Linked DNA regions of Homo sapiens: regions 1 and 3 are each linked to region 2. The links come from fine-mapping of genetic effects on gene expression. A gene starts in region 2. Each other region holds a variant in brackets. All regions are shown on one strand. Distances are between the middles of the regions. Region 1 holds the start of FIGNL2 (fidgetin like 2). Region 2 holds the start of ACVRL1 (activin A receptor like type 1). Region 3 has its middle 7.5 kb from the start of ANKRD33.

Evidence for each region. PIP is the estimated chance that this variant, and not a neighbour inherited with it, causes the effect.
Region 1: its variant is fine-mapped to the expression of ACVRL1 in whole blood (INTERVAL, PIP above 0.99).
Region 3: its variant is fine-mapped to the expression of ACVRL1 in whole blood (TOPMed, PIP above 0.99).

Annotation. Positions count from the first base shown.
Region 1 is chr12:51,844,024-51,852,200 of GRCh38, forward strand. FIGNL2 (fidgetin like 2) reads right to left here and starts at 4,695. Exons shown (of 2, transcript NM_001384995.1): 1 at 4,517-4,695. It overlaps FIGNL2-DT (FIGNL2 divergent transcript), which reads left to right and starts at 4,200. Exons shown (of 3, transcript NR_135803.1): 1 at 4,200-4,540; 2 at 6,238-6,287. RefSeq lists enhancers at 891-1,601, 1,602-2,310, 3,021-3,729, 3,928-4,919. The variant T/A (reference allele first, on the strand shown) is at 3,368.
Region 2 is chr12:51,902,702-51,910,878 of GRCh38, forward strand. It overlaps ACVRL1 (activin A receptor like type 1), which reads left to right and starts at 4,803. Exons shown (of 10, transcript NM_000020.3): 1 at 4,803-4,994. RefSeq lists an enhancer at 4,964-5,472.
Region 3 is chr12:51,876,498-51,884,674 of GRCh38, forward strand. No RefSeq gene overlaps it. Among named protein-coding and RNA genes, the nearest start is that of ANKRD33, 7.5 kb to the right of the region's middle. The variant C/T (reference allele first, on the strand shown) is at 3,584.

The sequences.
Region 1 (8,177 bases), 59 kb before region 2:
CCCTGGGCCCCGAGTCACTAAGCGGGTCCCCAAGGTAGGCTTCAGAATCAAAGGGGCAGACTATTTGAAACCAGGGCCACATCACCATCATATGAGGTTCTTATCCCCATTTTAGAAATGATGAAATTGAAACCCAAACAGATGAAGTCACTTGTCCGGAGTTACATCTGATTAGCAGCAAGGGGTTGCTGAAGCACAAAGCTTGGTCTCTAGGGTAGGGGTCATAACTGGTCATCAAAAATGGGGTTGGGGCTACAGAGGCAGGCCATGGCCACTGCCCAGCTCTCCCACTCACTAAGAACCCCCACTCTGCCTCCAACCCTGAAGATGAATATTCCAAAGGCTGACACTGTCCATACCTCGGTACTAAAGGAAAAGACAGAAGGCACTCAGGGGGTTCGCACTGCAGTCCCCTTTCCTTGGCTAAGCAAACTGGGGAAATGCTGGCCTCAACAGTAACCACAGCCCTGAGCACCTGCACCTAGAGTCATTCAAGACTAGGACTCAGGTCTCCCAGCTCTGACTCCTTTCATCCTCACAATATCCTGCTTAGGAGGTGGACACCATTCTTCACTCTATTTTCTCACCTCACAGATGAGATACAGAGTGTTTAACAAGTGTGTGGAAGCGTTAACTATGATTCATCAAGATGCTTATGAAACTGCTCGGAGAAGAGCAATTGCCACTTGTTCCTGGAGACAAGTGGACCCTAAAAAAAAAGCTGGACAGCCTCTCTCCAAGCCACATAGTCAGAGATGAGATGACCAGCCCAGACCCTGACCCAGCCAGTGTGAACTCTTCCCACTTAAAGGCTGGCCTAGTGCCTCAATCTCATACCCCTGGTCGCTTGGTTCTGGCGGTCCTACTGCAAGTAATATGGCCATGGAGTGAGCACTGAGTGGGGAGGTCAGGAAACCCAGGCTGCAGGCATGACTCTGTCCTCAGCACATCAGAGAGGGATGGACTGGGGTGAGGGTTTCTTGACATAAGGTCCCCATGGGCTTCAGGGGATCCAAGAATCCTCTAAAGCAGAATGCAAAGTCTGGTGTCAATTAACGGAAGTGCATTTTTCTGGGGATGGCTTTCATCAGTGTCTCCAAGGGCTCTGTAAATCAAAAAAAGTTATGGATACCCAGAATGGGTAATCTTGGAGGCTCCTTCCATGCCCTAGTATTCCTGGGTTATATATGGGTTTAAACGTGAAGTACACTCCCCATCCTTCAAGGCCAATTCAGTGGCTGCTCTGGGAAGCTCTAACAGATTTCTTGCTTCTTTGACTGCAGGGAAAGGCTGGGAGCCCAACACCACAGAGCCTGGCAGGGTCCCTCTGCCCTGATCTCCCTCACCAGACAGCCAGCTCCCAAAAGGGGGCAGGACCAGCCCAAGGCTAAGGTAGCAGATGCCAGCACCCCATACTTGACCTCTTGTGGCTCACCGCCCCCCCCCCACAGTCTCTGTCCCCTGAAGGGGGTCTCAGGGCTGCAGAGCACAGGGGCACTGGGGCCTGGAGTCCACATCTCCCTGCTGCAGCCCTGGAGCTTTGCAGAGCCATGCTCCTTCCAGGAACCTGGTTTTCATTAAATCGGGTAAAGGAGTCGATAACCGCCAAGTCCAGGAGAGGCAAAGTTCTGCTAGAAGGCACAGGGAAGGTGAGGGAGACCAGCCTGTCTCTTGCCCTCCCTGGCTGACCGACGGCAGGGGGAGGGGAAGGCAGGGCTCCTAAGGGTCCAGCAATGGCAGCAGTCGGAGCTTGGGGGGAGAGTCGGGGGAGTCCTGGCCCAGATAATAAGCAATTGTTAATGTGATCCATATGGATCCTGACTGGCCTCTCTGTTTAACAGAATGATAATGGCAGGGAAAGAATGCTGGTCTGTGGGGAAGGGAAGGGGCAAAGTCCTCCCCGGACTTGGGGGGGTGGGGTAGGGTCATGGGGAGGAGAAGGAGGCAAATAAGGGAAAGGGAGAGGAGGAGCCCCACCCAGGGGTCTCCACCACCCAAGAGCACAGAGCTGTTTACCTGAAGGTGGCCAGATTCCATGCTATGCAGACTGCCTGGCTAAAGGCCCTTACAAAACCCCTTTTATTCAGCCAACCAATATTTATGGAGCACCCACAAGGTGTCAAGCCCTGTGGCAAGCCCACTGGGGGCAGGGCCAGGGAGTACATGCTCCATTTCAGTCAAAGCCCTGAGTGGACCCCGCCACAAAGGCGGAAGGGAGCACAGGTGCAGGCCACGGAGGGAGGAGCAAGTGACAGAAGCTCGGGGCTGGGGAGGTGATGCGGAGGAGGTGCGCATCCGAGTTGGGCCCTGAAGAATAAGGAGGTTGTGGAAAGACAGGGACAATGAGGAAGGCATTTGGCTGGAGGAACAGCGGGAGCAAAGGCAGAGAGGCGTGAAATTGCGTGGAGAGAGCCCTAGATCTCAGCAATAAAGCTGCGGCCCAGGCAGGGCAGGGAGGGGAGTCCTGATCCATAAAAAGCTGTGGCCATGGGTGAGCAGAAGAAAGGCAGGAAAGGGCTCTGCGACGCCACACTCAGTCTGGGTGGCTCTCCCCAGCCTTCGCCCAGGCTGGTACTGGAATTGACAGTTACGGGATCCTCAGCCCAGCCCTCAGCCATACCACGGCCAGAGAATCGGGCAGGGCCTCCGAAGCCAAACTCATTTCTGTGTCTCTCAGCCCCTTCTGTTTCTTCTTCTGGGGCGGGGGTGGGGGCAACAGGAATCCCCCCGAGGAATGCGGGTCCTCTAGGCCTCCCCAGGAGCAACTCCTCTGCCCCACACAGCCTAATTCCCTTTGGCCCAAAAGGGCTTCGCCCAGAAGATATTACAGCGAGGACACGAGGGTCGCTCCCGTCTGCCTTGGATGCCAATGGAATCAAGTGGAAAGAAATGAAATGGTGTTAAACATGGGAAAGGGGATTTACGAGGCCTGTCACCCGTCCAGCCCAGCCACCCCAGCAAGCCCCGCCCCTTTCCTCGCCCACCCCAGGAAGTCCCGCCCCGCCCCCTGCCCGCAGCTCGCGCGGCCGCCCGGTACCCGCGTCCCACAGCTGGGTGGCGGCGGCACCACAGCACCGGGCAGCCCGGCGCGCCCGTCCTTGGGGGCTCAGGCACAGCGGGGAATGGCGTCGGTTCCGGACTGAGAGGCTCGGGGAGGCTTTAGGAGGATGCTATGGGATTTCGGGGTAGGCTCCGGGAGGGTCTGGGACTCCCTCTGCAGGGTCAGAGGGTTTCGCACCGTGGCATCTGCGGGCCCAGCCCACTCCAGAGACTGGGCGGCTCCACAGGGGAGGCCCCACGGCCCAGGAACCGGGAAGCCCACCTGCGCCGTAAGCCCAGAGTTGGGCTGGAACCGGGTCCCCACTCC[T/A]CGCTGCCGGGCGGAAAGCAGGAGACCGCTCCGCCGCCACAGCCCGTGCGGACAACACAAACATTCTTCAGTCCTCTATTCTCCTCCAAATTAGGTATCCATGGAGACAGGGCCGGCAGCCTGACAGCCCTACGGCCTAATCCTGATTTAGTGACCGTCCCTTTAACAGCCCACCCACCCGTCCACCCACCCCTGCGCTCCGGGCCGCCGCTGGGCGCAGGGTCCAGGCCGCGCGCTCTCTGCCCCGCGCAGACCCCTTCCCAGGCCTCCTCCTCTGGCGGGGGCAGGGGGACCAGCGGGGCTGGGGAAGGGCACCAGCATTTGCTGATCACCTACAGGGTGCTCAGCAATCTGCGAAGGACCCTCTGCAGCGGCGGGGGGGTTGCTAGCATGCGAATCTCTGTGTAGAACAGGAGAGGGCTCTTGCGGTGGGGAAGTTTGAGGGGCCCTCTCTGGAGAGCTGGGCGCTCCGGGGGTCCCCCTTGTTGCCTGTAGCCCCAGGGTGAAGGTGAGTACAGCCTCCTACAACCCCCTGACTCTGAGACGCGGGCTCTGTTCTCCCGGGCCAGAGGAGAAGACATGAAGAGGGTGGGTGTTAGGGGCGCGGGGACCCTAAGTAGCCTCGGCCTCCTGTCACTGCCCCGTCACCATGCTGGGGAATCTCCGGGCCAGTAACCCAGCCCCCACCCCTCCCACACACACACACAGGGGCCGCTGGACAAAGACCTGACGGAGTGGGAGGGGCCTGCGGGCCGGCCCTCGGGCTCCGGACGCTGGATCCTTCTGGGACCCGAACCCGCAAACCTTGGCTCCCCACCCCCAGGCCAGCAGACGCCCCCGAGCCGGCTGCTCGCTTTCGCTGCAGCCCCCGCACCAGAGGGGGCTGCGAGACGGGTGCCCGTCGGCGGCCGGGCGGCTATCCCCTGCTCTGCCCGCCCCCTCCCCCCGAGAAGTGACCCTCGGCTCCCACGTACCCGCTAGGGTCTCTCGCCGGCCCTGCCCTCCGACCCCCGCCGAGCTGAACCCCGCGACTAGCAGCCCCCGCCCTCTCGGCCCTCTCCGGCCCCGGGCCGGCGGACAAAGCTCCGGACACCCTGACCGAACGGTCACCTCCCCCCGCCCCATCCCGGCCCGCCCGCGGCCCCGTACCTCGGCATCACGGCCGGGTCCTAGGTGAGTGTGCGCGGCCTGGGGGCGCGTCCGGCCCGGGGACCGGGGCGGCGGCGCGGGCCGGGGGCGACAGGCCTGGGCTGGGGGGCAGTGGCGCTCACCATCCTGGAGCCGCTGCTGCTGCGGCTGCTGCGGCCGCCGCGGGCGGGAGCGGGACTGGGCAGTGGGGGTGGCCGGACAAGGGGCGGCCCCGGCTCCCCCCGCAGGAAAGACCCCCACCCCCACCCCCGCCTCCCCTCGCCCGCCCCCAGGGCCCTCCCTCGCAGGCCCTCCCTCCCCTCCCCTTTCCCTGCTCCTCCCTCTCCTAGTGCCCCTCTCTTCCCCCAGCTCCCGCCCCTTCTCTGGCCCCTCCACCCCCGGCTTCTTCCCCGCCCTCCCCCACCTCGCCCCCGCCCCGCCCCCACCTCCCCTGGGCTCGCCCAGCCCCTCCTTGCCACCCTCCCGGCTGGCCCCGCCCCCTCCCGCCCCTGGCTCTAAAATAAATTAGCCACAGAGGGGAAAAAAGAGCAAGTGACCCTCGGTGTGGAGAGTGTCCTTCGCCACTCTCAGACCCGTCCGCCCCGCCTCTCCCGGCCGTCGGAGCGGGAAGCTGGGGTTGGGGTGGGGGTCGGGCCGGCGGGTAGGGGTGGGGGACGGCATGGGGACGGGGCCGAGGCCGGGACTGAGCAGCCCAGCCCGTCGAGCGTGTCCGCTGGATGTGGGCGGCTTCCTGGGTCGAAGGGCAAAGGGGAAGGCAGCCGGCCTGGGCCCGCCCCGTCCGCGGGCCGCCCCAGACCCCCTTTCCCAGGACTGCCTTGGCCCCCTGGCCCCAGTCTGGAGGACTCTTGCTCACTTCCTCCGCCCCCAGGTGAGCTGAGAACCCACTGCGCGCGGGACTCTGCTGCGCCTGCCCTCCCGGGCTGCAGAGGGCAGGACGCACCGCCAGGCAAGGCCGCGGCTCTGCGCTGATGCCACTCCGGGAGCGGGTGGCTGCGGGGGAGGAGGGCGAGCACTGGACGGGGGCAGCGGAGTGTAGGGTGTGAGATCTAAACAGAGGGCTCCACTGGAGGGCTTGCCCAGAAGGCGGCAGTCACACTGGGCCAAGCAGGATGACTGGCAGGAAGAAAAGATGAGGGATGAATCCCAGACCTCTAGTCCACTGAGAGTGTCCAAAGACATCCGTTCAATAGATACATACTGAGTGTTAACTTTGTGCCAAACATTGGACTGTGCACCAGGGATACCCAAGAGAGTCCAAGAGGCACAGCCCTGTCTTCCTGGAGCTCCCAGTCGAAGGGTAGACAGAATTCTGCCCGACACACACACACTCAAGGCTTCATCAGGGATAAAGGCCAGGAACCGGCTTTGCCCCAGGAGAAGGTAGGAGGAGGGCTGTGCTGATGATGGAGGGTCCAGAGAACCTTCCTGCTGTTGAGCCTCCAGATGTCCCAAGGCAATCCTGTTTCCACCCAAGGGCAGTGCTTAAGGGTCCTCTCTCCTGAGAGCTTGTTTCCCTTTTGAGTGGCTGCCTAGCCTGAGTGTCAGTAGGGCAAGATTGGCCCTCACCCACTAGCCTGTAGAACTCCAAACACTACCCCCTCCCTTCTTCTAATGCAGATTCCCCTGCAGGCTCTGGGGTCTGACAGGTCTGGGGCACTCCTTTAGGTGCCACTCAGGGAAACAGAAGGGGAGGGCCTCAGTAGCTCCCACTTCTTTTCCAGCCCACATTTGGAAGCAACCGGCACCCACGCAGGTTCTGGAACTTGCCAAGGTCAGTGTCTTTTCCACCTCCAGAATTATCTCTTCCTTGCCACTCCCCACCCCCAGGGCTCTGCCCTGGCACAGGAGGAGGGACGTGTCAAGGCTCAGAGTGCTAGAGTAGCCCCTGGCTTCAGAATCAGGCAGGATGAAGGGAGCCACAACCACCATGCTAGGAGACTGGAACCCTTGCTGGAGGAACAATCCCAGGATACCAGCTGGAAGGAACTCCTTGGCTATTTCCTTATTGTTGGAGCACTGGAGGCCCAGAGAGGAGAAGTGACACACTTGGGGTCACACAGCAAAGCTGGATCTAGAATCCACTGCACTTTTTCCACCCCTACCTGTCAGGTTCCCTGACAGCCAGAGACAGGAACTAAGGGAAAGACTAATATCCTTATGAGCTGGGTGCCTCAGCCAGCAGGATTAGTGCCAGGAAGCCAAGTCTGGCATTGCCAATGGGGATCCTGCTCCACCATGCTCCAGGGAAGGGGGGATGACAGGAGTGGGGTTGGACTGAGGCGCTCAGTGTGAAGGAAGGAATTGATCATGCGCTCCCCTGGAGCGGGGATCCGGTTCTCCTTCATCCTCTAGGAGTCCGGGAGTAAAGGAAGGACAAGCTTAAAGCTAAGGAAGGCCTTGCTAGTGAGATAGTGGAAGACACCAGCCTGCTGGATAAGGCCTTCGCTGGACTCCAGGGGCAAGACCAGCAGCTTGGCAGTACTGAGTTGTTTCCAATGGGCGGACTGCTGTGGGTGATATTAAGAGGTTTAGTTAGCAGGTGGGGGTGAGGTTGATCATTTCACCCCTCCACCTCCCACCCTGCACCAGTGCTCAGGGCGATGAAGTGTGGCTCCCCCTCCCAGAGCTCATTAAAGTCCTGTTAATACATCATCCAGCCTCCTGGGCTGACAAATACTCTGTTCATCACATCTCTACCTCCTGCCCTCTTGGGCAGGGCCCGAGAGACTGATCTCTGAGGACTCTGGGGTGACCTCACTCCTGGCTGTCCCCAGTCAAGGGATCTGTGCCCTGAGAGCCCCTGCTGAGGTGGCTGTGATCATCCCCAGGCAGGTCAAGTGCCTGGCAATGGATTGGATAATAATAGTGGTAATGATGGTGGTAATGTGTGGCTTCTGCAGAGGGCCCTCCATTCTTTCCCAGATCTTTTGCTAGTATCACACCCAAGGTGGAGAATCCCACCCCCATCCTGCCCCCAGGGGAGACAGGTGCTATGCTTGGTTGTGTGGCTGAGTGCAGGCACCTGCTGCGGGCGCATGCATGTGGGTGTGCAGCAGAAGTGTGGGAGTGTGTGACCTTCCTGGTCCAGAGACCTGCAACAAGGGCTTTCTAAAAACATTAAGAAGAAAAATAACTCCGTGGGTCTAGGGAGAATCAGCTCAAAGGATTTTGGAGGGAGGGGGGAGAGTTAGAGGGAGGAAGTAAAAGCTAGAGAGAGAGGGCGGGAGGAGCAAGTAGGGTGAGGAGGAAGGAAAGAAAAGGGCCCCGGGTTGGGGGAAGGATGGGGTGGGGGGAGGAAGGGAGAAAGAAATGGAAGAGAGGAAGAGGAAAGGGCGGGGAGGCCTCTTTGTGGTCCTCTGGACTGGCCACTCAGGAGTCATTATGAGCAGGAAAGGAAGGAAATGTGTCCTGGCTTGGGGATTGGGGTGCGTGCCCAGAGGGCACCACACCCAGCTGGGCTTCCCCCCAACCACACTTGCCCGGGACTCAGGCTGCTGTCCCCACAAATGGAAACTCTAGCCCTTCTCATTCTTGCTCTTTGCCCATCAAGGCCCAGTTCCCAGTGCCTCCCCAACCCTGATCAAACCACCCCAAAAACTCTTACTCTTCATGAACGTATACCAGCTTTGCCTTCCCACTGTGCTACAAGCTGTGTCTAGTC
Region 2 (8,177 bases):
TTGTGTTTTTGGTAGAGATGGGGTTTCACCCTGTTGGCCTGGCTGGTCTCAGGCTCCTGACCTTAGGTGATCTGCCCACCTCAGCCTCCCAAAGTGCTGGGATTACAGGCATGAGCCACCGCGCCCGGCTTCTATAAGTTTTTTTCTATGTTTAAAACTTTTAATTTCATTTTTGTACTTAATTTTTTTTTTTTATTAAACACACACATTAGCCTAGGCTTACACAGGGTCAGGATCATCATTATCACTGTCTTCCACCTCCACATCCTGTCCCACTGGTAGGTCTTCAGGGGCAGTAATGTGTGGAACTGCTGTCTCCTGTAATAACAATGCCTTCTGGAATACTTCCTGAAGGACTTGCTTGAGGCTGCTTTAAAGTTAACTTTTTTAAAAAATAGAAGATGCACACTCTAAAATATAATAATAAAAAGTATAGGATATTAAATACATAAACCAGTAGCATTGTCATTTATCATCAAGTATTGTTTATTGAACATAGCTGTACATGCTGTATACGTTTCTATGGCTAGCAGCGCAGTGGGTTTGTTTATACCAGCATCAGCACAAACACATGAGTAATGCGATGCGTTACTACGACGTCAGTAGGCAACAGGAATTTTTTGGCTCCATTTATAATCTTATGCGACCATCATTGTATGTGTGGAATATTTTTGACTGAAACTTCATTATGCAGCAAATTACTATATTAGCAAATAAAATTGAGCTATATATAATGAAGAAGTACACATTATAACCAAGTGGGTTTATTCCAGGGATGTAAGGCCTGGTTCACTATTAGAAAATCAGTCAACATAGGCTGGGCACGGTGGCTCACGCCTCTAATCCCAGCACTTTGGGAGGCCGAGGCGGGTGGATCACCTGAGGTCGGGAGTTCAAGACCAGACTGACCAACATGGAGAAACCCCTTCTCTACTAAAAATACAAAATTAGCCAGGTGTGGTGACAGGCACCTGTAATCCTAGCTACTAGGGAGGCTGAGGCAGGAGAATCGCTTGAACCCAGGAGGCAGATATTGCAGTGAGCCGAGATCACGCCATTGTACTCCAGCCTGGGCAACAAGAGCAAAACTCTGTTTCAAAAAAAAAAAAAAAGAAAAAGAAAGAAGAGAAAATCAGTCAACATAATCTACCGTATTAACAGACTAACAAAGAGAAATTACACAATTCGTATCAGTGGATGCAGAAAAGGCATTTGACAAAATTCAATAGCCATCCATGATAAGAATACACACACACACACAAAAGAGGAATGGGGGAACTTTCTCAATCTGATATAGAGTGGCTACTACAAGAAACTTACGGCTAACATTATGATTAATAGATTGAGTGTGTTCTCCTAAGAGAAACAAGGCAAGGATGGCTGTTCTGTTTTGACCACTCTTATTCAACATAATGCTAGAAGTTTTAGCTAGTGCAGTCAGGTAAGAAAAGGAAATAAAAGATATGCATATTGGAAGGTAAGAAATAATACTGTCTCTATTTGCAGATGCAGATGACTGTCGATGTAGAAAATCCCAAAGAATCCATGAGGGGTAGAAAACCCAAATACCTCACCCCCTTGAATAAGTGAGTTCAGCAAGGTCACAGTATACAAGATCAATATGTAAAAATCGATTATATTTCTATATAATTTAATGAACAAATGGACACAAAAATTAAAAATAGCATATCCTGTTTATAATTGCTTTTAAAAAGTATAAGTGTAACAAAACACATAAAGGAGTTAAATGCTGAAAACTACAAGAACACTGATAAATAAAAGAGACCTAAATAAATGGAAAAAAAATATATCATTAAGAATTTTAAGATGGCAATGACAGCGCATTAAACCAAGCATGGGGCCCTGTGCATCTGCACAGGTCACACTCCCATGAAGCCAGCCCCGCACTAGTATCAAGAGTGATGTTTGAGTCTGGGTGGGGTGGCTTATGCCTGTAATCTCAGCACTTTGGGAGGCTGAGTGGGTGGATCAGCTGAGGTCAGGAGTTCGAGACCAGCCTGTACAACATGGTGAAACCCCGTCTCTACTAAAAATACAAACATTAGCCAGGCGTGGAGGCACGCATCTGTAATCCCAGCTACTTGGGAGACTGAGACAGGAGAATCACTTGAACCTGGGAGGCAGACCTGAGATCACGCAACTGCACTCCAGCCTGGGCGACACTGTGAGACTCCATCTCAAAAAAAAAAGAATGATGCTTGAACTTAATACTCATAGCTGGTCCTGAAAGGTGAAGGTGTCCATTGCCCTGCCTTCCTGACAGACTCCATGTCACCCACCTTCCACAGATGAGAATCTGCTTGAGGTTTCACCCCACACAGAATCTCCAGGCCTCTGCTTCCTGCAGTGTTGGGAAATCCTTCTGAGTATCTAAATCTAAATCTTTGTCCTTTGGGCCTGTTTCCTCTTGTTCTGTCCTCACTGAATATGGGGAACAGCTGGTCCCTCTGAGTAATTAATTCTTGTAGACTTGGACACAGTCTGTAATTCCTTTTCCCTTTTCTCATTGGGATGACTCTCCAGGGCTTTCTCCAACTCTGGATCTCCAACTCTGACACCTCCCCCAGGTTCTCTGTGTGCTTTGGAAGGCATGGGGTTCACAAGAGCCCCAAAGAGCACCAGTCAGGGGCCAGAGGGCTCAGTGCTCTGGGGAGATGGGGAAGATTCCAGCACTGATGAACAGACTCCAGCCCCCCCTGGGTCCTCTCTTCCAGCTCCCAAAATGTACTCTATTTTTATCTGTTTCACGAACGCTGGTCCAGATAGTCTTCCATCCCCCACTGACTGTTAGAAGTGACTCTCAGCTTTTGTCCATCTCGAAGTTTCTGTGCTCAGTGTGCCTCTCAGACTAAAGGCTTCCTTTGGGAAGCCCCGACTCTCGCTTCTCAGGACAGAGATCCAGGGGTTGGGGGAGGAAAAGGTTGACCAGAAGCCATAGCGGAGCAGGGAGAGAGAGTGTGAAAGACAGACCCGCGGCCAGGCTCCCAGTTCTCCAGCTCGTAGAGGGCCCAAGTGGCCGCTATAATCTGAAAGAGCAGATATCGTAATCCCATAGTACTTCCTATTGGCTGCAGGACACAGTTCTGTCCTGACACTGAAATTTGGGTGTGTCAGGGTTCTGGGAATTCACAACGCTCACAACTTGTGAAGCAGCTGTGGGGTGGGGGATGGGGAGGGTTTCAGCAGAGGAAGTGAGGTCAGTCAATAATTGATGCCTGTCTGAGCTTTTAGCCATTATCTCCCCCAGCCTCTATTCCTGTCAAAAGGTGGGGCGGGGCAGGAGGAGGGGTCCCTGGCTCATCTTGTAGAATCCCCATATTAGAGTAAGACACCTTAGAGGTCTACTCCTGCTTCTAATACCCACGTCTTTCCAAGTGTCTCTGAGGCCACCCCCTCCCCAGCCTTTTCATTTATTCATTTAATTAACGAACGCCTTCATTGAGGGCCTCCTCTGAGTCAGGCTCAGCCAGCCAGCATCTTTGCTATGAGCTGAGATAAGCATCATTTCCGTCTATTCTCACAACCACCCTATGAGGCTGGCACGGTTTACTATGCCTATTTAGCAGATGGGGGACTGAAGCATGGAGAGGTGTCACTAGCCTACGGTAACACAACCAGCCTGCATTCCTAGTAGGTAGTTTGACTTCAGAGTCTCTGTGGATAACCAGGAGGCTAGGACTAAGACCAGAGTCCTGCAGGTACTTAGATGGTTGGAGCAAAGCAGGGCAGTGAGGTCAGTGCTCCCAGCCTGTGCAGGAGCATCAGGAAGAGTCTGTGTCCCCCTCCCCTGCCGGTATGAAGCCATTCTGCTTCCCTCCCCAGCTGCCTTGTGTCAGCAGAGTTCCAGGGAGGCTCCATTCCCCACCTCTATCTAAAGCTCCATTTGCTGGGGTGGGGGCCCTGCCTGGAAGGGGAAGGTCCAAGGCTGCTCCCAGCGTGTCCCTCCATCCTGACTGTCCCTGGCGGGGCGGGGGTGTCTTTGTCACCCAGCTGCACAACGGCCAGGAAGGGCTCAAACCATCCTCAGGGCTAACCCAAGGCCGTCCTCTGGGCCTGTATACCCCTGTGCTGAGTGCGGATCGGGAGAGGCTGCTGAAGACAGGAGGGGACAAATGGGGGACGAAGGGGCCCGAGGGAGGGGACTGAAGGATTTGGGCCAAGTCGGGAGTTCCCGAGGGCGGAGTCAAAACGCATCTGGATTTTGCTAGCCCCAAACTCTGCCCTCATTGCTGCAAGCCTCCTAGACCGAGGACCCCCGGGCTGAGGGTGGGGTAAGGATAGGTAGTGTCCCTCCCCGTCCCACCCCCGCCTGTCCCTTCCTCGGTGGCCCCTTCCCGGCGCCCCGATTCCAGGCGGCCCCTCCGCTGCTGCCAGCCGATCCCCCTCTACCCCCACCCACTACTCCGGCCGCCAGACGTTGCCTACAGTCTCGGCTCTGTCTCCCACGGCTGTGGGTCCGGACCCCACGGGACCCCTATGGGACCCCCACAGGACCCCCACGGCCTGAGTCCAAGGCCCGCCCCCTCGGGGAGGCGGATGTGGGAGGCCCGGCCCGGGTGCGGGCCAGCGACCCGGGAGCTGCGGGCGGCTGGGAGGGGAGGCCGCCCTGAGGGGCTGGGAGCGGCGCGGGGGTGGGTCCCGGTCCTGCAGCCCCAGCGAGGGGCGAGCGGCGGCCAGTCGGCGAGCTGGGCAATAAGGAAACGGTTTATTAGGAGGGAGTGGTGGAGCTGGGCCAGGCAGGAAGACGCTGGAATAAGAAACATTTTTGCTCCAGCCCCCATCCCAGTCCCGGGAGGCTGCCGCGCCAGCTGCGCCGAGCGAGCCCCTCCCCGGCTCCAGCCCGGTCCGGGGCCGCGCCCGGACCCCAGCCCGCCGTCCAGCGCTGGCGGTGCAACTGCGGCCGCGCGGTGGAGGGGAGGTGGCCCCGGTCCGCCGAAGGCTAGCGCCCCGCCACCCGCAGAGCGGGCCCAGAGGTGAGTCGAGGTCCGCGGACGGGACCGGGTGGCGGGCGGCCTGACCCCCGCTTCAGTGGGCCCTTCCTTCGGGCGGACCCCAGAGTCACCGCAGAGTGGTCGCGGGAGGCTCAGTCCCAGCTCATTAGAAAGGCAAGCTGCTCCTGGCTGACCACGCACAGCTCCCATGACCCTACCTGAGACTTGGAGGGGAATGGACGAGACTGGACTGGAAATCAGAAACTTGGTTCTAGTCGGGTGACCTGGGGTCAGTGACTTCACTTCTCTGTTCTCCTACCCTCTTCATAAAATGGGCAGTGGGATTCCTGTCTTGCTCTACTCACATAGAAGGGATCACACGTCCTCCAGGCCGCTGGGTGGACCTGGAGTGAATGCCTACTTCCACAGCTGTTGAGCCTCCCAGCAGAGCTCACCTTTCCCAGATCAGTCCTTCCAGCTGTTGCTTGAGGAATCTGACACTATCACTCCAACCTAGGAGTCTCACCCTAGGCGCGCATGGTCAGTCACCTCCTTGCCACGACCTTCCTTCAGGATCCAGGCCAAAGGGGATCCCAGTCTCCCCCCAGGCTGGGACCCCAGATTTTTCCATGGAGGCCAGTGCTGTGAAACCCATGGCTGGGCTGGCTGCCCCAGCTCCTCTTTCCTTCTCCAAGGACAGGGGCATAATGGACAGTTGCTCTCACTCTCTCTATGTATGGCCAGCTTCTGGCTGAGTCAGGGTCTGTCCTAATACCTGTCCTCTCACCTGTCCCCCCATTTCATTGGTTTGTTAGAAATAGCTACCATTGATTGAGTACTAACTATGTAGACACTTAGATATATATATTTTTTCTCATGTAATCCTGGCCGCAACCTAGTGGAAGAGGGGTTACTATCCCCTTCCTACAGAAAAGGAAACAGACATGAATATGGGACTTGTCCAAAACTCCTTGGATGGTGGGGTGAATGGCATGGTTGGGGTCTTGATAACATTTCAGTGCTTACTGTGTACTACTTATACTCTGCTAAATAATTGTACTACATTTTACCTATGAGATAACACTATTATTATTCCCACTTTACATATGATGGGAAGCCTAAGCCTCAGAAAGTTTAAGTAACGTCTCAAATTTCATACCTCTAAGTGGCAAAGGCAGGATTTGAACCCAGGTCTCCATGCTCCAGAGCCCACACCCTAACCTCTGTGCTACACTGTGCTGCCTCCATGGTCTGCCTGAGACCTGAAAATCCAGGCATCACCTGGATGTTCCACTGCATCACCCCGCTGTGAAGGGCTAATAAATCACATGGATGAATCGTAAGGGCAACCCAATATGAACAGCTGGGTCTGCTCCTCTGCTGTTGGGGTAAGGCCTACTGAAGTGCAGAGTGAGTCCAGAAGGTTGTGCTTGATATGGCGCTTCTCCAGCCCTGTGAAGATCACTGCTGTGCTGAGCCACTGCCGTTGATGGGAGTAGGTTTTATCAATCCTTCAGGTGTGCTAGGGAGAAAAACATTGATAAGCACCTTTCGGGCATACCACTACTCTGGCTCTCCCCACCTGAGGCTCAGACTTTGACTAAGCCTATGGCAAACAGATGATTTCTGGGCAGCAACACCACCTTTGTTGCCTGGGTCAACATAGTGAGACCCTATCTCTACTAAAAATAAAACTGGGCATGGTGCTGCACCCCTGTAGTCCCTTGGGACTTGGGAGGCTGAGGTGGGAGGATCACTTGAGCCCAGGAGTTCAAGGCTACAGTGAGCTATGATTGCACCACTGCACTCCAGCCTGGGCGACTGAGCAAGACCCTGTCTCAAAAAAAATTAAAAACAAACAAAAACGCTGTCTTCATTTAAACAAATCTGAGTAGGGCACCCGTTAATAACAACAGTAGTGGGCAATTTGTACACGTCCACCGAGACCCATGTCTTTTTCTTCCTTTGAGGGACTCATCTAACCCCAAACAACTGGAGGAATAACAATGACCAAGGAATGATTTATTATCAGCAATTTAAGTTTATTAAGACACGCTCAGTGACTATGGACAAGAAACTGAACATCTCTGAGCCTCACTTTCCCCCGTTGGACTGTTGTGATGATTAAATCAGATAAACCATTCAAGTTCAGTACTTAGCACATAATTAGTACTCAGAGAAGGTTAACTGTTATTATTAAGTATTTCATAGTGTTTAGCTAACGTTTGAAATTAGTTTAACGTCTGTAATTTCTGGCCAACAATAGTGATGCTTCTGTCAGCAGGAGATCTTTCACAAAGTTTTGCTTAGAAGTGAAAGGATCCTGCCAGGCCCCAGGAGTCTGTCTGTGCTACAGTCAGATTTCAGGGTAAATCGTACAGAGTCAGCTCTGAGTTTGGACTGGTCGGGACTCAGCATCCTCCTGTACTTGATCTCACACTGGGTCCAGTTAAAAATTGGACAGTCCCAATTTTACTCCATCACATTCCCAGGATTAGACCATAGATGGGTTCTGCAGATGCAGACAGCCTCGCTCCACAGTGTCACCACGTCCCAGCTTTGGTGTTTACCCTTGGCTGTCCCTTCTGTAGTAGATGGGGAGTATCCTGGGTGGGAGTGAGTGTCCCCTCCCTCTGCATCCCACTCCCACTCACCCAGCAGGGCCCTGTACAGCAAAATGAAAGCAGAGGAACCAGACTTAGCGTTGTGCCCACACAAACTGATCAGAACTCCCTGGGGAACTTTTAAAAAATGCATGTTTCTTGCTGATTCCAGGACTGAATCAGAGTCTGGAGTGAGGGTGAAACCAGTGAATATGCTTTTCTCAGTGAGCACTTCAGGTGATTCTGATGCGTGATAAAGTAGAAGGAGGGTGGACTGGGGCACGGCCAGAGAAGTAGAGGTACGGACAGAGGATCCTAGAGGAATGCCGGATTTTAGCCTTATTGTTAGCCACTTTTTCCTTTCCACCTCAAACCCTCTCCTTTGCAGCTTTCTGGGCTAGCAAAGGCTGCCAAGGATGGCTTCCTGCTAGTACCCCAGTGGGCAGATTCAGCTCCTCTAGGGTGCTCTCTCCATCCCATCCCACCGTCAGTCCTGCCGCACAGTGCTAGCCAGAGTCCTCACTGGCTGCGGGAGGGGCAAGAGGCAGGAGGTCAGGCAGAGGCTGGGGACACAGCTGCAGCAGCCCAGGGCTCTGTTTCCTCCCCCAGCCTGGGCCTCTGG
Region 3 (8,177 bases), 26 kb before region 2:
GGCACCTGTAGTCCCAGCTACTCGGGAGGCTGAGGCAGGAGAATTGCGTGAACCCGGGAGGCGGAGCTTGCAGTGAGTGGAGATCGCGCCACTGCACTCCAGCCTGGGCAACAGAGCGAGACTCCATCTCAAAACAAACAAACAAACAAACAAAAAACCTTTTTCTTCACCCTTCTCTTATTCCTCCTCTTTAAGTTAACCATGTTTTAAAGAGCATCATTTTGTCTAGAGGTTCCCCATCTGGGCTGTACATTAGAATCACATGAAGAGATTTTTAAAATCCTGTTGCCCAGGTTGTGCCCCAGACCAATAGTCTCAGAATCTCCAGAGTGGGTTCCAGGCATCACTATTTCTAAAAAGTCCTTAAGTGATTACATTGTGCCGCCAATGTTAAGAATGACCATTCTGGCCGGACACGGTGGCTCATGCCTGTAATCCCAGCACTTTAGAAGGCCAAGGCGGGTGGATCACTTGAGCCCAGGAGTTACCAGCCTGGGCAACACAGCAAGACCCCGTCTCTACAAAAAATACAAAAATTAGCTGGGCGTGCTGGCGCATGCCCGTAGTCCCAGCTACTCAGGAAGCTGAAGTGAGAGGATTGCTTGATCCCGGGGAGGTCAAGGCTGCAGTGAGCCATGATTGTACCACTGCACTCCAGCCTGAAAGACAGAGCAAGACTCTGTCTCAAAAAAAAAAAAAACCATTCCAGCTCTTTCTATGCATTTACAAAAAACACGTAAATAGCCAGACTCTCTCTCTCTCTCTCACACACACACACGCATATGTATATTGTAGAGACGGGGTCTCACTATGTTGCCCAGGCTGGTCTTGAACTCCTGGCCTCAAGTGTGTGTGTATATGTGTGTGTATATATATGTATACAGTATACTGTGTGCCTGTGTGTTTGTATGTGTGTGTGTCATTGCATTTGGCTTTTTTTCCAACCATGAACAAGGTGGCTCAGAGAGATTTTCAGGGCAAACCATGTAGATATTTATCTTCTTCTTGAAGATAAATGGAGGCATTGAATGGAGGCATAATCTACAGGTGCCTCTAACCTTTCCTCTACTGATGAACATTTAAATTGTTTCTAATTTTTTTTACTGTTACAAACAATGCTTCAAGGTATATTCAGTATGTCTTTTTAAATTTTATTTTATTATTTATTTGTATTTATTTATTTTGCAGAGACAGGGTCTCCGTGTGTTGCCCAGGCTGGTCTTGAACTCCTGGCCTCAAGCAATCCTCCTGCCTTAGCCTCCCAAAGTGCTAGCATTACAGGCATGAACCACTATGCCAGGCCTACTCAGTCTATCTTTGCTCACATATGCAAGCACTGTTTTGAAAAAGATTTCTAAAAGCAGAATTTCTGGGTCAATGTGTATGTACATTTGTTATTTTGATAGATACTGTCAAAATGCTTTCCAAAAATACTTCACTAATTTACATTCTCCCCACAGTGTAAGCACTTCATATTATTAATGTTTAATTTTTACCAAACTGATGGGCCAAAAGCAATATTTCATTGTTATTTTAATTTGCCTTTTCCTGCCTATTTGTGAGGTTAAGCATCTTTTCATATGTTTATTGGACATTTGTATTTCTTTTCTTTTTTTTTTTTTTTTTTTCGAGACAGAGTTTCGCTCTTGTTGCCCAGGCTGGAGTGCAATGGCACGATCTCAGCTCACTGCAACCTCACCTCCGCCTCCCGGGTTCAAGTGATTCTCCTGCCTCAGCCTCCCGAGTAGCTGGGATTACAGGCATGCACCAGCACACCTGACTAATTTTGTATTTTTATTGGGGATAGGGTTTCTCCATGTTGGTCAGGCTGGTCTCAAACTCCCAGCCTCAGGTGATCTGCCCACCTCCACCTCCCAAAGTGCTGGGATTACAGGTGTGAGCCACCGCGCCTGGCCTGGCCATTTGTATTTCTTTTATGAATTAATTGACCATGCTATTTGCCCATTTCCTATTGGGCTTTTTATTTTATTTATTTATTTATTTATTTATTTATTTATTTATTTATTTAATTTTGAGATGGGGTCTTGCTCTGTTGCCCAGGCTGGAGTGCAGTGGTGTAATCTCAGCTCACTGCAACCTCCATCTTCCAGGCTCAAGCCAACATTTCAGCCTACTGAGTAGCTGGGACTACAGGCACAGGCTACCATGCCTGGCTAATTTTTTTTTTTTTTTTTGGTATTTTTAATAGAGACAGGGTTTTGCCATGTTGCCCAGGTTGGTCTCTAACTCCTGGCCTCAAGTGATCTGCCTGCCTCAGCCTCCGAGAGTGTTGGGATTACAGCCGTGAGCCACCACATCTGTCTCCTATTGGGCTTTTTTGCAATTAATTAGGAATAGAGGAAATTCTATTTCCAATAATATGACTGGCTGGATTCTGGACTGATTTTTCAGCATAAGTCATGTAAAAATGCTGGTTGAAATACGCAAATTATTTTAAAAGTGTAGATGTGCTGGCCAGATAGCAAGAAAGTATTAGGTTAAAGTCTAAGGGAAGGCAGGAACTCAGAGAAACAGACAAAGGAATCCTTCTTTAGTGTGAGGATATTTGTCGAATTAGGCAAACTTGAACTTCAAATTTCACAGTCTCTATTTTTGATAGAACCAAGGTGAGGAATCTAATAGGAGATTCTCTAAAAAGCTATGACTCCAAAGGATTCATCGTTCATGTAAGATTGAACCTGAAATAAATCTATCCCGCTGTCACATCCAGAGGACTTTAATGAAAGCTGCCTCAGTGCTGAGCTGATAGCAAGGCTGTATCTCTGAGTTGTAACCACCAGCTGATCTTTGCGCTTATTTGCAGCCCTGGATGACCCAAAACTATCCAAGTTAGGTATTTAGTTTAAAGTGGTTCAGGACTGGTTAGTACCTCTACATGCCTGGCAGGAAAAAACAAAACAAAACAAAACAAAACAAAAAAACTTCATATTCTCTGAAGGAAGATACCTTAGTCCTCAGCCTCAAGAAATTTCTAACATCATTTTCTAGGGAAAATAATAAATAGCTCACAGGGGGAAAAAAAATCTCTAGGCTGGGCGTGGTGGCTCATACCTGTAATCCCAGCAGTTTGGGAGGCCAAGGCAAGAGGATCACTGGAGCCCAGGAGCTCAAGACCAGCCTGGGCAACATAGTGAGACCTCCTTTTTATAAAACAGAAAAAAAAAATTAGCTGGGCATAGTGGCAGGTGCCTGTAGTCTCAGCTACTTGGGAGGCTGAGGTGAAAGGATCACCTGATAGAGTGAGATACCACCTGATAGAGTGAGACCCTGTCTCAAAAAAAAAAAAAAAAAAAAAAGGTAAATCATAAGAAATCCATACCTAAGCATTGAAGTAAAACTTAAGAACACCAAAGACAAGAAGAAGACCTTGAAGACTTAAGAAAAGAAGGCCGGGCGCAGTGGCTCACGCCTGTAATCCCAGCACTTTGGGAGGCCGAGGCGGGCAGATCACCTGAGGCCAGGAGTTCGAGACCAGCCTGGCCAACATGGTGAAACTCCGTCTCTACTAAAAATCCAAAAAATTAGCCAGGCGTGGTGGTGGGCGCCTGTAATCCCAGCTACT[C/T]GGGAGGCTGAGGCAGGAGAATCGCTTGAATCCGGGAGGTGGAGGTTGCAGTGAGCCGAGATTGTGCCATTATACTCCAGCCTGGGAAACAAGAGTGAAACTCTGTCTCAAAAAAAAATAATTAAATTTAAAAAAAAAGAAAAGACAATCTTTAAAGGAGACACACTGAACTCTCAACAAGATAATGAAAGCCAGAACCCAGTGAAATACTTTCCACACATCATGGCACCGAACAACTGAAAAATACACAGTCTTTTAAAGCACACATGACGTATTTGGCAAAATCTGATCATATACTAGATTATAAAGCAAGTCTCGATTGATTTTAAAGATTTGACCACAGTGCTAGAAATAAGTAACAAAAATAATTTCCATATGTTTGAAAGTTATTAAAGACATTTCTAAATAATTCATTGATCAAAGAGGAAATAAAAATGGAACAACTAAAGTAGTATTCAATGGGAAATTTAAGGTCTATAAGGCTTATATTCAAAGACTTGAAGAAAGGATGAAAATTAATTAGCTACACACATATCTCAAAAAATTAGAAAATAAGAGCAATTCCACTTGTAGGTATACACTCAAGAATACTTTTTTTCTTTCTTTCTTTCTTTTTTTTTTTTTTTTTAAGACAAAGTCTCAATCCAGCGCCCAGGCTGTAGTGCAGTCATGCAATCTTGGCTTACTATAGCCTCAACCTCCCAGGCTTGGGTGATCCTCCCACCTCAGCCTCCCAAGTAGCTGGCACTACAGGTATGTGCCACTGAGCCCAGCTAATTTTTTCATTTTTAGTAGAGACAGGGCTTGGCCATGTTGCCCAGTCTGGTCTCAAACTACTGGGCTCAAGCAATCTGCCAGCTTTAGCCTCCCAAAGTTCTGAGATGACAGGTGTGAGCCACTGTGCCTGGACTCAAGGAATACTTTTTTTTTTCGAGACGGAGTTTTGCTCCTGTCACCCAGGCTGGAGTGCAGTGGCTCCATCTCGGCTCACTGCAACCTCCGCCTCTGGAGTTCAAGCGATACTCCTGCCTCAGCCTCCTGAGTAGCTGGGATTACAGGCATGTGCCACCACGCCCAGCTAATTTGGTATTTTTAGTAGAGACGGGGTTTCATCATCTTGGCCAGGCTTATCTTGAACTTCTGACCTCAGGTGATCCGCCTGCCTCAGCCTCCCAAAGTGCTGGAATTACAGGTGTGAACCACCACACCTGGCCATCAAGGAATATTTTTCCATAAACAACCATGCCTGTGTGTTCATAGTGGCAGAATTTATAATAGCAGAAACTTGGACACATCCCAAATATCCGTTAATAAGACAGTGCATAGGCTGGGTGTGGTGGCTCATGCCTGTAATCCCAGCACTTTGGGAGGCCAAGATGGGTGGATCACCTGAGATCGGGAGTTCGAGACCAGCCTGACCAACATGGTGAAACACCGTCTCTATTAAAATACAAAATTAGCTGGGCATGGTGGCGCATGCCTGTATTCCCAGCTACTCGGGAGGCTGAGGCAGGAGAATTGCTTGAACCTGGGAGGCAGAGGTTGTGGTGAGCCGAGATCGCGCCATTGCACTCCAGCCTGGACAACAAGAGCAGAACTCCGTCTCAAAAAAAAAAAAAAAAAAAAGACAGTGCATAATAACTGTGGTACATCAACGCAATAGAGTATTATACAGCAATCAAAATGAGTAGACCATAGTAACACAACAATGTGAATGAATCTTAGCAATATGATATTAAGTGATAAAAGTGGACAGCAAATGACTACATAAAGCATTATATGCTTCTAAATAAAATAGCTAAAATTGTATATGTATATATACATAATATAAATACTCTGAAGAATACATGAAGAGGTAGTAAAACAATATATAAAGGAGAGCAAAAGAATAATGGACAAGAGACTAGGATTATAGCTGCCTTGGATGAGGAGAGGCCGGGGCTATGTCAGGGAAATCATGTTAAACTGTAAAGTGTTATCAAGATTGAGGCCAGGCGCAGTGGCTCACGCCTGTATTCCCAGCACTTTGGTGGGATTGACTCACAGTTCCGCAGGGTTGGGGAGGCCTCAGGAAACTTACAATCATGGCAGAAGGGGAAGCAATCATAACCTTTTTCACAGGGCAGCAGGAAGGAGAAGTGCCATTCAAAAGGGGAAAAGCCCCTTATAAAACCATCAGATCGCTGGGCGTGGTAGCTCATGCCTGTAATCCTGGCACTTTGGGAGGCCAAGGCAGGCAGATCACCTGAGGTCAGGAGTTCAGGACCAGCCTGGCCAATGTGGTGAAATCCTGTCTATACTAATAATACAAAAAAAATTAGCCAGGCGTGGTGGCGCACGCTTGTAATCCCAGCTACTTGGAAGGCAGGAGAATCGCTTGAACCCAGGAGGCGGAGTTTGCAGTGAGCTGAGATCGCGCCATTGCACTCCAGCCTGGGCGACAGGAGCAAAACTCCGTCTCAAACAACAACAACAACAAAAACCCCATCAGATCTTGTGAGAACTCACTATCACAAAATAGCATGGGAGTAATCGCCCCTATGATTCAATTACCTCCCACTGGATCCCTCCCATGACAGGTGGGAATTACGGGAACTATAATTCAAGATGAGATTTAGTTGGGGGACACAGTCTAACCATATCAGTCCTCATATGGTGGAAGCGGTGAGGCAGCTCTCTGGGGTCTTTTTTTATAAAGGCACTAACTACCCCCTAAAAAGTCTCACCTTCTAATACCATCACCTTGGGGGCTTAGGATTTCAACATATGAATTCTGGGGGAAACAAACACTCAGATCATAGCGTATCCCATGTTCAGGGAGGAGAGAAGATCTAACATTATGAGGCAGTCAATTTTCCCCAAATTACTCTATAAATTCAAATAAATGCCTATCAAAACTGTAGCAAAAATTTTAAAAGAACCCAACAATCTTATATGCAATTTTACATGAGAGAATAAAAATCAACTTCAAAAAAGAAAATCAGATATGGAGAACTTACTCTATCAGGTAGTCAGAGAGACTACAAGGCTAGAGTAATAAAATCAGTGTAGCATTGGCACAGGAATGCCCTCATAAGATGCTATAAGATAACTGAAACATAGCATAAAACATAAAAGAGAACTCAACGTTTACATGTGATAAAAACGACACCACAAATCAAGGGAGAGAGAATTGTTTAATAGATGGAGTTATCTTGCTAAATGGAGAAAAAAATAAGGTTGGATCCTTTATTAGTCTGTTCAGGTTGCTTTAACAAAATACACAGGCTGGATGGGTTACACAACAGAAATGTATTTTCTCACAGTTCTGGAAGCTAGAAATCCAAAATCAAGGTGTCAGCAGGATTGGTCTCCAGAGAGGCCTCTCTCCTTGGCTTGTAGATGGTACCTTCTGACTGTGTCCTCACGTGTCCTTTTCTTGTGCAGGCACAGAGAGAGAGAGTTCTGGTGTCTCTTCCTCTTCTTATAAGGACAACAGTTCTATTGGATTAGGGCCCTATCCTGCCCTAATAACTTCATTTAACCTTAATTACCTCCTTAAAGGCCCTGTCTCCAAACACAGTCATTTTTGGTGTCAGGGCTTCAATATATGAATTGGGGTTGGTTGAGGGAGACACAATTTAGTCTATAACAGATTATTTCTTCAATATTATAAAAGTGAATTCCAGATGAATTAAAGACTAAATATTAAAAATAAAACTGCAAGATTAATAAAAGAAATGAAGATCTTTGTGATCTTGGAGTAGAAAATTCTTAGTAAACAAGACCCTGAACACAAAGTATAAGGAGAAATTCTGGTGAATTTAACCATATCAAAATTCAGGAGCTATTTCAATGAAGGTCACCATAGATAAAGCTAACAGAAGGGTTTATATAGTACAGTTGCCTCATCTATAACCCATCTGACAATGGCTTTATTATCTAGAATATTAAAAGAATTCCTGAAAAATCAATAAGAAAAGGATAGGAAAATTCAATAGAATACTGAGCAAAGGCCATGAACAGTCAATTCACAGGAGGGAAAACAAGATTGGCCAGCAGGGCATGTGGAGAGATGCTCACCTTGTTGATAATCAGAAAAATTCAATGTAAAATAGCAATATCGCTTTATAGTTCTATCAGATTGACAAACATTAGAAGGCTGAATAATGACATGTGTTGTCTAAGACGTAGGGAGACTCTTATGCACTGCTGGTAGGCACACATGGTGAAACAGAGTGCAACCTGAGTATCCACTCAGTAAGTGTGTATGTGCCCTGTGATCTAGTGATCTCAGAGACCCCGATGGGTCCACAACTAGATACGTATGAGGGTGTTCACTTTGGCATTATTTATAGTGACAGGAAGTTGGAGGCAACCTAAGCATCTATTGCAGGAAGAAGGGATAGGCTAAATGAGGTGGATGCACACTATGGAATTCTATAAGCAGGAAGAAAGAGGGAAGAAAGAGGGAAGAAAGAAAGAAAAAAAGTGGTGCACTCTACATCTTTCATCAAGACAGTGTTAATTATAGTGAACCCCAAGTTTCTCTTCAAAGAATCAGTATGTCAGTATGTTCAGCTCTCTTATTCTTTGATTATCCATTTTAAAGTTT